2 separate regions of the Homo sapiens genome follow, and region 2 is linked to region 1. Evidence: fine-mapped expression QTL. A gene starts in region 1. The other region holds a variant in brackets. All regions are shown on one strand. Distances are from middle to middle. Region 1 holds the start of ERCC6L (ERCC excision repair 6 like, spindle assembly checkpoint helicase). Region 2 overlaps PIN4 (peptidylprolyl cis/trans isomerase, NIMA-interacting 4).

The links. PIP is the estimated chance that this variant, and not a neighbour inherited with it, causes the effect. A credible set is the group of variants that fine-mapping cannot tell apart.
Region 2: its variant is the best candidate, but not a certain one, in a credible set for the expression of ERCC6L in tibial nerve (GTEx, PIP 0.71).

Annotation. Positions count from the first base shown.
Region 1 is chrX:72,235,875-72,241,249 of GRCh38, reverse strand. ERCC6L (ERCC excision repair 6 like, spindle assembly checkpoint helicase) reads left to right here and starts at 2,223. Exons shown (of 2, transcript NM_017669.4): 1 at 2,223-2,406. The coding sequence starts at 2,339. It also overlaps a transcript of PIN4 not described here. RefSeq lists an enhancer at 2,292-2,441.
Region 2 is chrX:72,188,645-72,194,019 of GRCh38, reverse strand. The region is part of intron 2 of PIN4 (peptidylprolyl cis/trans isomerase, NIMA-interacting 4); the gene reads right to left. Among named protein-coding and RNA genes, the nearest start is that of PIN4, 9.6 kb to the right of the region's middle. The variant T/C (reference allele first, on the strand shown) is at 2,675.

The sequences.
Region 1 (5,375 bases):
TCTCAATGCCACCATGGTGGGGATTAAGTTTCAACACAAGAATTTTGAAGGACATTCAGACCATAGCACAGCCCAATCCAAGCTTGCCTCCAGGAAAAGATGTGATTCAAACACTTTAGCAGAGTAAACAAGTTCCTTCATAACCTGGCCTTCAACTGCCTCATCAACCTCATTTCCCGCCACTGCCCTCTTCTTTCCAGTGTGACACAGCGAAACGGCACAGATTTGTGTCCATATGGACCTAGTATTGAATTCTGGCTCTGCTGCTTCCTAGCTCAGGAAGCTTAGATGAAGTCAATTTATCTCTCTGAGCCTGTTTCCACATCTGAAAAATGTGGATAATAGTATACTAAAAGGCCTCTTAATAAAGGCCTTAAAGTCATACAAACCAGGAAAATAGCCCATGTTCTCCAAGATCCCCCACCTCCCCCCAACCCTTTTCTTTTTTTTGAGATGGAGTCTTGCTCTGTCGCCCAGGCTGGAGTGCAATGGCACGATCTCAGCTCACTGCAACGTCTGCCTCCTGGGTTCAAGCGATTCTTCCACCCCAGCCTCCCGAGAAGCTGGGATTACAGGCACCCGCCACCATGCCCAGCTAATTTTTGTAGAGACGGGGGTTTCACCATTTGGCCAGGCTGGTCTTGAACTCCTGACCTCAGGTGATCCGCCCGCCTCGGCCTCCCAAAGTGCTGGGATTACAGGTTCAGTGAGCCACTGAACCCGGCCTCCAACATTCCTTTTAACTCATAACGGTCTATAAATTTTATGAAAAGCTTAAAATTCTCTGGACATATGATGTATGACTGGGCCAATAGGTGAGTTTTCCAATACTGAATGCTAAATTAGTGTCTTGAGGAGTCATGTCTGTGTTCTTAACAGTATATGAACAAGGACAATTTTTGTTGGCCCACAACCTCCTATTTAGTGTCACCCAAGCAAGCCACTTAAACTCAATCACATTTCCTTAAGCTCTAGGCTCTGCCTTCTTTTTAGGCTCTGCATTTGAAAATGACTGTATCTTAGTTGGTGCTTCTGAAGAAATGATGACCACAGCACTACTTCTTTTTTTTTAAATTATTTTTGTCTTCCTTTTATTATACCAAGTATGTGAACCTAGTTACTTATTTCTTAAATAAGAACTTTAATTTTTTTTTTTTTTTTGAGATGGAGTCTTTCTCTGTCACCCAGGCTGGAGTGCAGTGGCATGATCTTGGCTCACTGCAGCCTCCACCTCCAGGGTTTGAGATTCTTGAAGACCCTTCTCTCTTTCTCTCTCTCTTTTTAAGAAAATAAATACAGCATAACGCCCTGTGGAGAAGAAAAAAATTTTTTTTAAAGAGACGGGAGTCTCACCATGTTGCCCAGGCTGGTCTCGAACTCCTAAGTGCAAGTGATCCTCCCACCTTAGCCTCCCAAAAGGCTAGGATAACAGGCGTGAGGCACTGCACCCAGCCTTTTTTTTTTTTTTTTTTTTTTTTGAGATGGAGTCTCGCTTTGCCACCCAGGCTGGAGTGCAGTGGTGCAATCCCGGCTCACTGCAACCTCCACCTCCTGGGTCCAAGCGATTCTCGTGCCTCAGCCACCCGAGTAGCTGGGACTGCGGGCGCCCGCCACCACGCCCGGCTAATTTTTTGTATTTTTAGTAGAGACGGGGTGTCACCATTTTAGCCAGGTTGGTCTCGAACTCCTGACCTCACGTGATCCGCCCGCCCCGGTCTCCCAAAGTGCTGGGATTACAGGCGTGAACCACCGCGTCTGGTCGCTTCTTCAATGTTAGTTTAAATCACAGGGACTATGCCTCCCAGGGTGTTTGAATTCAAAGCACGGTCAGTGCCAGGTACTGGCGATCAAGGAAGGGAAGATATCTGTGGATGCGGGGCAGGGTATGGTTGGGGGACGCAGGCGTTGGAGATCTCCAGGGGTCGCCGCAATGACTGGGATCATATCGGGCAGTCTCCTCCACTCACAATGATGGCACACGCACGCGCGAACGAATTGGCTGCAGCATGGTTTGAATTGGATTGAAACGCGAGGGATCACAGACTGAGGCAGCACACTCCGTGTCTCGAAGGCAGAGATCACCTTCTGCTTCCCGGCGCGCGTAGGCGCAGGCGCCCACCGTCATGGGCGGGGCTCAGGCGGAGGCGTCGCAGCGCGTGGTCGCGGATTGGCCGGCCGCGAGGCCGTCGGTTGGCTGTGTCCCTCTCCACGGCGCACAGAGCATGCGCGGGGCGGGAGTGAGCGAAATTCAAGCTCCAAACTCTAAGCTCCAAGCTCCAAGCTCCAAGCTCCAAGCTCCAAACTCCCGCCGGGGTAACTGGAACCCAATCCGAGGGTCATGGAGGCATCCCGAAGGTTTCCGGAAGCCGAGGCCTTGAGCCCAGAGCAGGCTGCTCATTACCTAAGGTATGTCTGGACCGCTGGGCGGGTCTAGCTAACCGACCTGGCCCAGGGTGGAGGTGGGGTGGCCCCCGGATCCTCCTGGGGACCCGAACTGTTGAGGCGGAGCCTTTTGAGACGCGCGCTCGCGCTCTTCTCGCAGTAGGGTGTGGGAGTCAGCTCTGGATGTTTGACCAGATTTCTAAAACCTGAGGAGACCCCGATGCCTCTTCTTTTGGGCAAATGACCCTCCAGTATGGTCTCCTTAAAAGCCAGAGGAGCCTTAATTAATCAAGCCCTTCTTGATTCTTTTCAGCTTATCAAGCCCTAAGTCTAGGGGATACAGAGATGAGTAAAACAAGGTCCCCGCCCCCAAATTGTTTGTAATCTAGTAGTGGAAACGGATCTGTAAAGCAATAATTACTAGGTTTGATAAGTGCTGTAAGAGGTATAATGTACGTGCAGGGCACAGTGTTGGCATAAAAGAGGGAATGGCCAACTACAAGGGTGGTCAGCTAAGGGATGGCGTGGCAAGAGGAGACATTTGAGCTAGGCGTTGAAAAATGAGTAAACATTCACCAGTTGGCTAAGGGTGGGGGGCGTGGTAATGTTGGGATGAGAATTTAAATTTTTTCTTAAATTGTGGTAAAGTACACATAACATAAATTTTATCTTTTTGTGCAGAAACTGGGTTTTATGAAAAATAAAGTTTATCATCCTAACCATTTTTAAATGTACAGTTCAGTAGTGTTGACTACATTCATATTGTTGTGCAGCCGTCCGTCATCTCCAGAACTTTTCTCATGTGGCAAAACTGAAACTACTCCCATTAAACAAACTCCCCATTTCCCCCTCCCTTCAGCCCCTAGCAACCATTATTCTGTCTCTGTGAATTTTACTGCTTTAATTTTTTTTGAGACAGGGTCTTGCTGTGTCGCCCAGACTGGAATTCAGTGGCCTGATCATAGTTCACTGCAGCCTCGAACTCCTGGGCTCAAGCAGTCCTCCTGCCCCAGCCTCCCTAGTAGCTGGGACTTAAGGTGGGTGCCACCATGTCCAGCCAATTTATTATTTTACTATTGTTGTTTTATATATATTTTTAGAGACAGGGTCTGGCTCTGTCACCCAGGCTGGAGTGCAGTGGCGCGATCTCTAACTCAGCTCACTGCAACTTCCATCCCCCGGGGCTCATGCGATCCTCCCACCTGTTTCCGGAGTAGCTGGGACCACAGGCGCACACCACCACACCCAGCTATTTTTTTTTTTTCTTTTTTTGATACAGTCTCGCTCTGTCACCCAGGCTGGAGTGCAGTGGCGCGGTCTGGGCTCACAGCAAGCTCCGCCTTCCGGGTTCACGCCATTCTCCTGCCTCAGCCTCCCGAGTAGCTGGGACTACAGGCGCCCGCTAACACACCCGGCTAATTTTTTGTATTTTTGGTAGAGACGGGGTTTCACCGTGTTAGCCGGGATGGTCTCAATCTCCTGACCTCGTGATCCGCCCGCCTCGGCCTCCCAAAGTATTTTTTTTGTGTTTTTAGTAGAGACAGGGTCTCGCCATGTTGCCCAGGCTGGTCTCAAACTCCTGAGTTCAAGCAATCCTCCTGCCTCGGCCTCCCAAAGTGTTGAGATTACAGACGTGGGCCACCATGCCAGGCCTTTCATTTAGATTTTTCCAATTGTTTGCCATTATACTTTTGTTGTAATAGGCAGCCTTTGTGTGAATTTTTGTGCACTTCGTAACTGAGTGTACACTTTGGAATTCCGATTGCTGGGTCTTAGGGAATGTGTATTTAAAATTGCCATTCAAGAAAACCATGCCAGATTTTAATAAAGTCAATAGTGTGAGTAAGCATTTATTTATATTCTCTCAGGCTGGTGTGTGATGAGCTATATGAGTCAATTCAAAAGTTAAGATACATAGTTTTACTTTTGAAGCTAAGACTTGTAGTATTTTCTTCTACAGATACACTTACATGAGTGAGCAAAGATGTGTGTGCGTGTGTATACAGTAAGTCCTCACTTAACATTGTCCATAGGTTCTTGGAAACTGACTTTAAGTGAAATGACGTAGCAAAACCAATTTTTTTCTCATCAGTGTTGCAGCAAAATGATATTGAATGAACCAGTGTCATTCAAGGGCCTGCTGTGTGTCATTTTGCTTAAAGTTGCAGTTGCCAAGAACCTACTGACCACGTTAACTGAGGACTTACTGTACATATAAACATATACCAGAGGTGTGTGCCATGAAGCCCGGCTAATTTTTAAAAGATTTTTGTAGGCTGGGTGCAGTGGCTCATGCCTGTAATCCCAGCACTTTGGGAGGGCGAGGCAGGTGCATCACGAGGTCAGGAGTTCAAGACCAGTCTGGACAACATGGTGAAGCCCCGTCTCTACTAAAAATACAAAAATTAGTCAGATATGGTGGCGGGCACCTGTAATCCCAGCTACTTGGGAGGCTGAGGCAGAATTGCTTCAACCCAGGAGGCGGAGGTTGCAGCGAGCTGAGATGGCGCCACTGCACTCCAGCCTGGGCAACAGAGCAAGACTCCGTCTCAGAAAAAAAAGAAAAAAAAGATTTTTGTAGAGATGAAGTCTCACTGTGTTGCCCAGGCTGGTCTTGAACTCCTAGACTCAAGTGATCCTCCCAACTCAGGCTGCCAAAGCACTGGGATTACAGGTGTGAGCCACCATGCCCAGCAGAATCAGACTTTTTATTACACTTACATTATTACACCACCGTTCAAGCATTCTACTCTCCATCTTCTACCTTACTCCCTCTAGAATACCAATTCCAACAAATGTTTGATATTGTTGGGACCTATAGTTCATTGATTCCATCTTTTCACTGTTGCACACCCCTCAGGTTCTCACTTCTCTCCTTACATAGTTTGAAGTTCAGAGTCAATAATTGTGGAGGCTTCCTTGTATACAACTTTAACTTATTTTTTTTCTCTTTCACACTTAATTATACTGGCTTGGCAAGACCATAGCCTTCG
Region 2 (5,375 bases), 47 kb after region 1:
TTAACTTTATACATTTAAAAAATTTTAAACTTTTGGACTCTATTTAATAACACTTGGCTTAAAAAACAAACACATTGTGCAACTGTACAAAACTATTTTCTTTCTTCATATCCTTATTCTATAAGCTTTTTTCTTTTTTTTTTTTTTGAGATGAAGTCTCATTCTGTCATCCAAGTCGGAGTGCAGTAGCACAATCTCAGCTCACTGCAACCTCCGCCTCCCAGGTTCAAGCGATTCTTGTGTCTCTCAGCCTCCTGAGTAGCTGGGATTACAGGCGCGTGTCACCACGCCAAGCTAATTTTTGTATTTTTTGTAGAGACAGGGTTTCACAGTGTTAGCCAGGCTGGTCTTGAACTCCTGACCTCAAGTGATCTGCCTACCTCAACCTCCCAAAAATGTTGGGATTATAGGTGTGAGCCACCACGCCCAGCCACTATAAGCTTTTTTCTATTTAAAATTTTTTTTTTTAATTTTTAAACTTTTTTATTAAAGACTAAGACACAAATACACACACTAGCTTAGGCCCACACAGGGTCAGGATCATCAATATCACTGTTTTCTACCTCCATGTCCTGTCCCATGGAAAGGTCTTCAGGGACAATAACATGCATGGGACTGTCATCTCCTATGATAATGCCTTCTTCTGGAATACCTCCTGAAGGACCTGCCTGAGGCTGTTTTACAGTTAATTTTTTTTTTTTAAGAGACAGCTTCTAGATTGCCTCCTTGTTTCTGCTTCCATACTCACAAAGTGATTGTCTGATACAATTCCTGGGAAAATGTACACTGCATTCGTGGTCACAGATAGGGGATACCGTCCACCATTTTATAAATGAATAAACGAGTATTCTAGTTTAGACAGTGCGACAAAGAGTTTTTCATTCCTGTGGGGTCTGCAAGTGTGACCAACGAACTGGCAACAGTGCAGCTGTGTCTTGGAGAGCCAAGCTACAGAAAGAGTTTGGGAGTGATGACTATGGAGGTGGCAGCTGAAGTGTGGAATTCATGAGGTTACCAGGAAGGAGATGAAAATGAGAAGAGGAGGAAAGAAAGCTAAAGTAACCTTGGAGACTATCAATGTTCAAGCAACAAGTAAAGAACTCAAAAAGTGTAATAAAAAGGGGCGAGGCGCAGTGGCTCACACCTATAACCCCAGCACTTTGGGAGGCCAAGGTGGGAGGATCCCTTGAGGATGGGAGTTTGAGACCAGTCTGGGCAACATAGTAAGACCCCCATCTCTACAAAAACTTTAAAAAAAATTAGCCGGGCATGGTGGTGCACATCTGTAGTCTTAGCTACTCAGGAGGCTGAGGCAGGAGGATCACTTGAGCCCAGGAATTGAAGGCTGCAGTGAGCTATGATCATGCCACTGCATGTCATGCACCCCGGCCTGTGTGACAGAGCAAGAACCTGTCTCTTAAAAAGAAAAAAGAAAAAAGCATAATAAAAAGGAAAGGCCATATAGGTAGGAGAGAAGCGTGTGCTAACAAACCAAGGCAGGAGAGAGTTTCAAGGAGGAAATGGTCAACAAGGGTTAAGGGTTGCAGAGACATCAGGTAAGAAGTATAATACATTGTGCAATGATGGAACAATGATCTCAGAAAAAGGAGTTTCAGAAGAGTTTAAGTGCAGAAGCCAGAATACAGCAGGCTGACTGAGGAAACAATGTCAAGTGGGAGGGTAATTCAAACAAACTAACTTTGTTTGAAAAGGAGAAAGGGCTCTGGCTAGAGGCAAAAAGTGGAAGACATGTAAATACGAAATTTACACTGGGCGAGGTGGCTCAGGCCTGTAATCCCAGCACTTTGGGAGGCAGAGGTGGGCGGATCACCTGAGGTGAGGAATTGGAGACCAGCCTGGCCAACATGGAGAAATCCCATCTCTACTAAAACTACAAACAATTAGCCGGGAGTGGTGGTGGATGCCTGTAATCCCAGCTACTCGGGAGGCTGAAGCAGGAGAATCGCTTGAAACTGGGAGATGGAGGTTGCAGTGAGCCAAGATCGCGCCACTGCACTCCAGCCTGGGCAACAAGAGTGAGACTCCATCTCAAAAACAAAAACAAAAACAAAAAAACCCACGAATTTTAAAGGTCCCTGGGCATATTTTCGGAATGAAGGGAAAGACCTAGGAAAAAAAAAACCGGTTGAAGACAGAACAAAAAAGAGGGTAGAGATAAATGAAGGAGCAAGGTTTGGTATTCAGAACACGGTTTGAAAAATTAGCCTTAAAGGAAAAAAGGTGAGGAGGTAACTTTGTTGCTAGGGGGCTGAAAGCCAATGAGTTCCTGACAATGGGTCTGGTTTCCACTTTCTTGTTAAAATAATAAAAACATTTAAAAGTTGATGAGTACTTATCTCATTAAATCCTCACACTAACGCTGTGAGACTAGATGAGTGTTTCTTAACCCTGGCAGCATATTAGAATCACCTCCAGAAATTCTAGAAAAGTTTTTCGTTTTTGTTTTTTGAGATGGAGTCTCACTCTGTCGCCCAGGCTGGAGTGCAGTGGCGCAATCTCAGCTCACTGCAACCTCCGCCTCTCGGGTCCAAGTGATTCTCCTGCCTCAGCCTCCCGAGTAGCTGAGATTCCAGGCGCATGCCACCATGCCCAACTAATTTTTGTATTTTCAGTAGAGACAAGGTGTCACCATGTTGGCCAGGCTGGTCTCGAA[T/C]TCCTGACCTCAAGTGATACACCCACCTCGGGCTCCCAAAGTGCTAGGATTACAAGCATGAGCCACAGAGCCCAGCCCTTCTAAAAAAGTTATCAAAGTCCAGGCCCCCCTCCAAGAGATTCTGATGCAGTTGGTCTGGGATGAGACCCTAGGCACTCGTATTTTTTTAGGCGAATCTGATGTACGTCTAGGGTTGAGAACCATGGAATGAAGTTCTCTGTTGACTGATGGGAGTGGGGTGGTGGATGGCTACAGGTGGGCGGTAAAGGATTGCTGAGCAGCACTGAGGGCCTAGGTAAAGTCAGAGACCAAGTATTAGTAGTCCCAATCCCCAAGGCTGTGTGACTTTCCAGTAGGGCCCAGCAGTTCTGGGGAGCTTTTTTTTTTTTTTTTGAGATGGAGTCTCGCTCTGTTGCCCAGGCTGGAGTGCAGTGGTGTGATCACGGCTCACTGCTACCTCTGTCTCCCAGGTTCAAGTGATTCTCCTGCCTCAGCCTCCCGAGTAGCTGGGATTATAGGCACCCGCCACCACACCCGACTAATTTTTGTATTTTTAGCAGAGACGGGGTTTTACCATGTTGGCCAGGCTGATCTTGGACTCTTGACCTCAGGTGATCCGCAAGCCTTGGCCTCCCAAAGTGCCAGGAGTACAGGCATGAGCCACCGGCGCCCGGCTGAATTTTTCTTTCTTAAGTAACTGTTTCAAATTTGAGCCAAGCTACTGAAATAAGTTCATCTATAAGCAAATATAATACTCATATTGGAATTATTAGTAAATACTTTATTTACATACTTATTAAAAATCAAGTATTAATATTTAAGTTGCCCCCAGCTAGACGTTTTCAAGGAAATCTTTTCTTTTCTTTTCTTTTCCTTCCTTTCTTTTTTATTGATGCATAGTAGATGTACAGTTTCAAGGTAATGCAATAATCTAATACATTCATATAATTGGTAAAGATCAAATCAGTATACTTGGAATATCCATCACCTTAAATATTTGTCTTTTCTTTATACTAGAACCACTCGAATTCTTCTCTTCTAACTATAGATCTAATTTTAAGTGCATAGAAAGTAGACCATTGGATTGATCCTGAGTAGCAGGGAGGTGGATGCAGGGAGGTGGCCAAAAGAAAAACTGGACCTCCTCAATCCAATGATCAAGCCCTTAGGCCTAATTTTGAGTGTGCAGGGGATAGGAAAACAAACATGAAGCCTAGGAGAAAGTGGGGAGATTAGGGTGGGCTTGAGGGCTTGGGGGTCTGTGAGGAGAAGAACAGAGGAACAGGATTGGCGGAGGCAGGAAGGGAAGGGGAAGGAGGGAAGCTGTGGTCAGTGGATGGGTCTCAGAATCTGCAGAGCTTATAGCGACAAAAGGGCAGGGTGTGGGCACAGGGGTGGGGTCTGAAGCAGAATGACAGAATGTGAAAGGAGCTGAACCCTAAAAGGCCAGAGGGTCCCAGGGTCCCTCACCGACTGGTGCCTTCAAAAAACACTTGAAACAACCCAGCTGTCCTTCAACAGGTGAATGGTTCGACATACTACAGCACTTCCACATCATGGGATACAGGTTGAATATCATTTATCCAAAATGCTTGGGACCAGAGTGTTTCGGATTTGGGAATATTTGCATTAAACTTACCAGTTGAGCATCCCTAATCTGAAAATTCAAAATCTGAAATGCTATAATGAGCATTTACTTTGAGTGTCATGTCAGCGCTCAAAAAGTTTCAGATCTTACAGCATTTTGTATTTTGTATTTTTGGATTAGGGATACTCAACTGGTACTATTTAGCAATACAGAGGAATAAACTATTGATAAACAAAACCACCTGAATGAAATCTCCAGCGAATTATACTGGGTGAATAAAACCAATCCCAAAAGGTTACATACTGTATTATTCCATTCATATAACATTCTTGACATTATAAAGTTACACAAATGGAGAACAGATAAGTTGCTGCCATGGGTTAAGAGGGCAGAGGTGGGGCAGGAGGGAAGCGGGTATAGTTATAAAAGGCCAAGAGGAGGGATCCTTGTAGTGGTAGGATTGTCTGTATCTTGACTACATCAATGTCAATATCCTGTTTGTGCTATTGTACTATAGTTTTGTTAGGTGTTACCATTGGGAGAAACAAAGGAATACGTATTATTTCTTTTCCTTTTTCTTTTTTTCTTTTTTAGAGACAAGGTCTCATTCTGTTGCCCAGGTTGGAGTGCAGTGGCGTGATCCTGACTCACTGCCGCCTCAAACTCCTGGGCTCAAACAATCCTCCTACCTCAGCCTCCCAAGTAGCTGGGACTACAGGCACACACGACCATGCCCAGCTAGATGTATTATTTCTTAAAACTGCATGTGAATCTATAATTATCTCAAAATAAAAGGCTTTATAAAAACAAATTTAACCCTAATCTACTTTCCTAGTGAATAACGTGCCACTCCTTTCCATATATCTCATGAGTGGCCACATTGAACTTATTTTTTTTCCAGAGAGGGTAAGGTGCCTCTTTAAAGCCACATGCACCAGGTGTGGTGGCTCATGCCCCTATAATCTTAACACTGTTGGAGGCTGAGGCGGGAGGATCGCTTGAGGCCAGGAGTTCAAGACCAGCCTGGGCAACATAGCGAGACTCCATCTCTACAAAGATAAAAACAACAAAACAAAGTTTTTAAAAAATTAGCTAAAGCCGCCAGGCACGGTG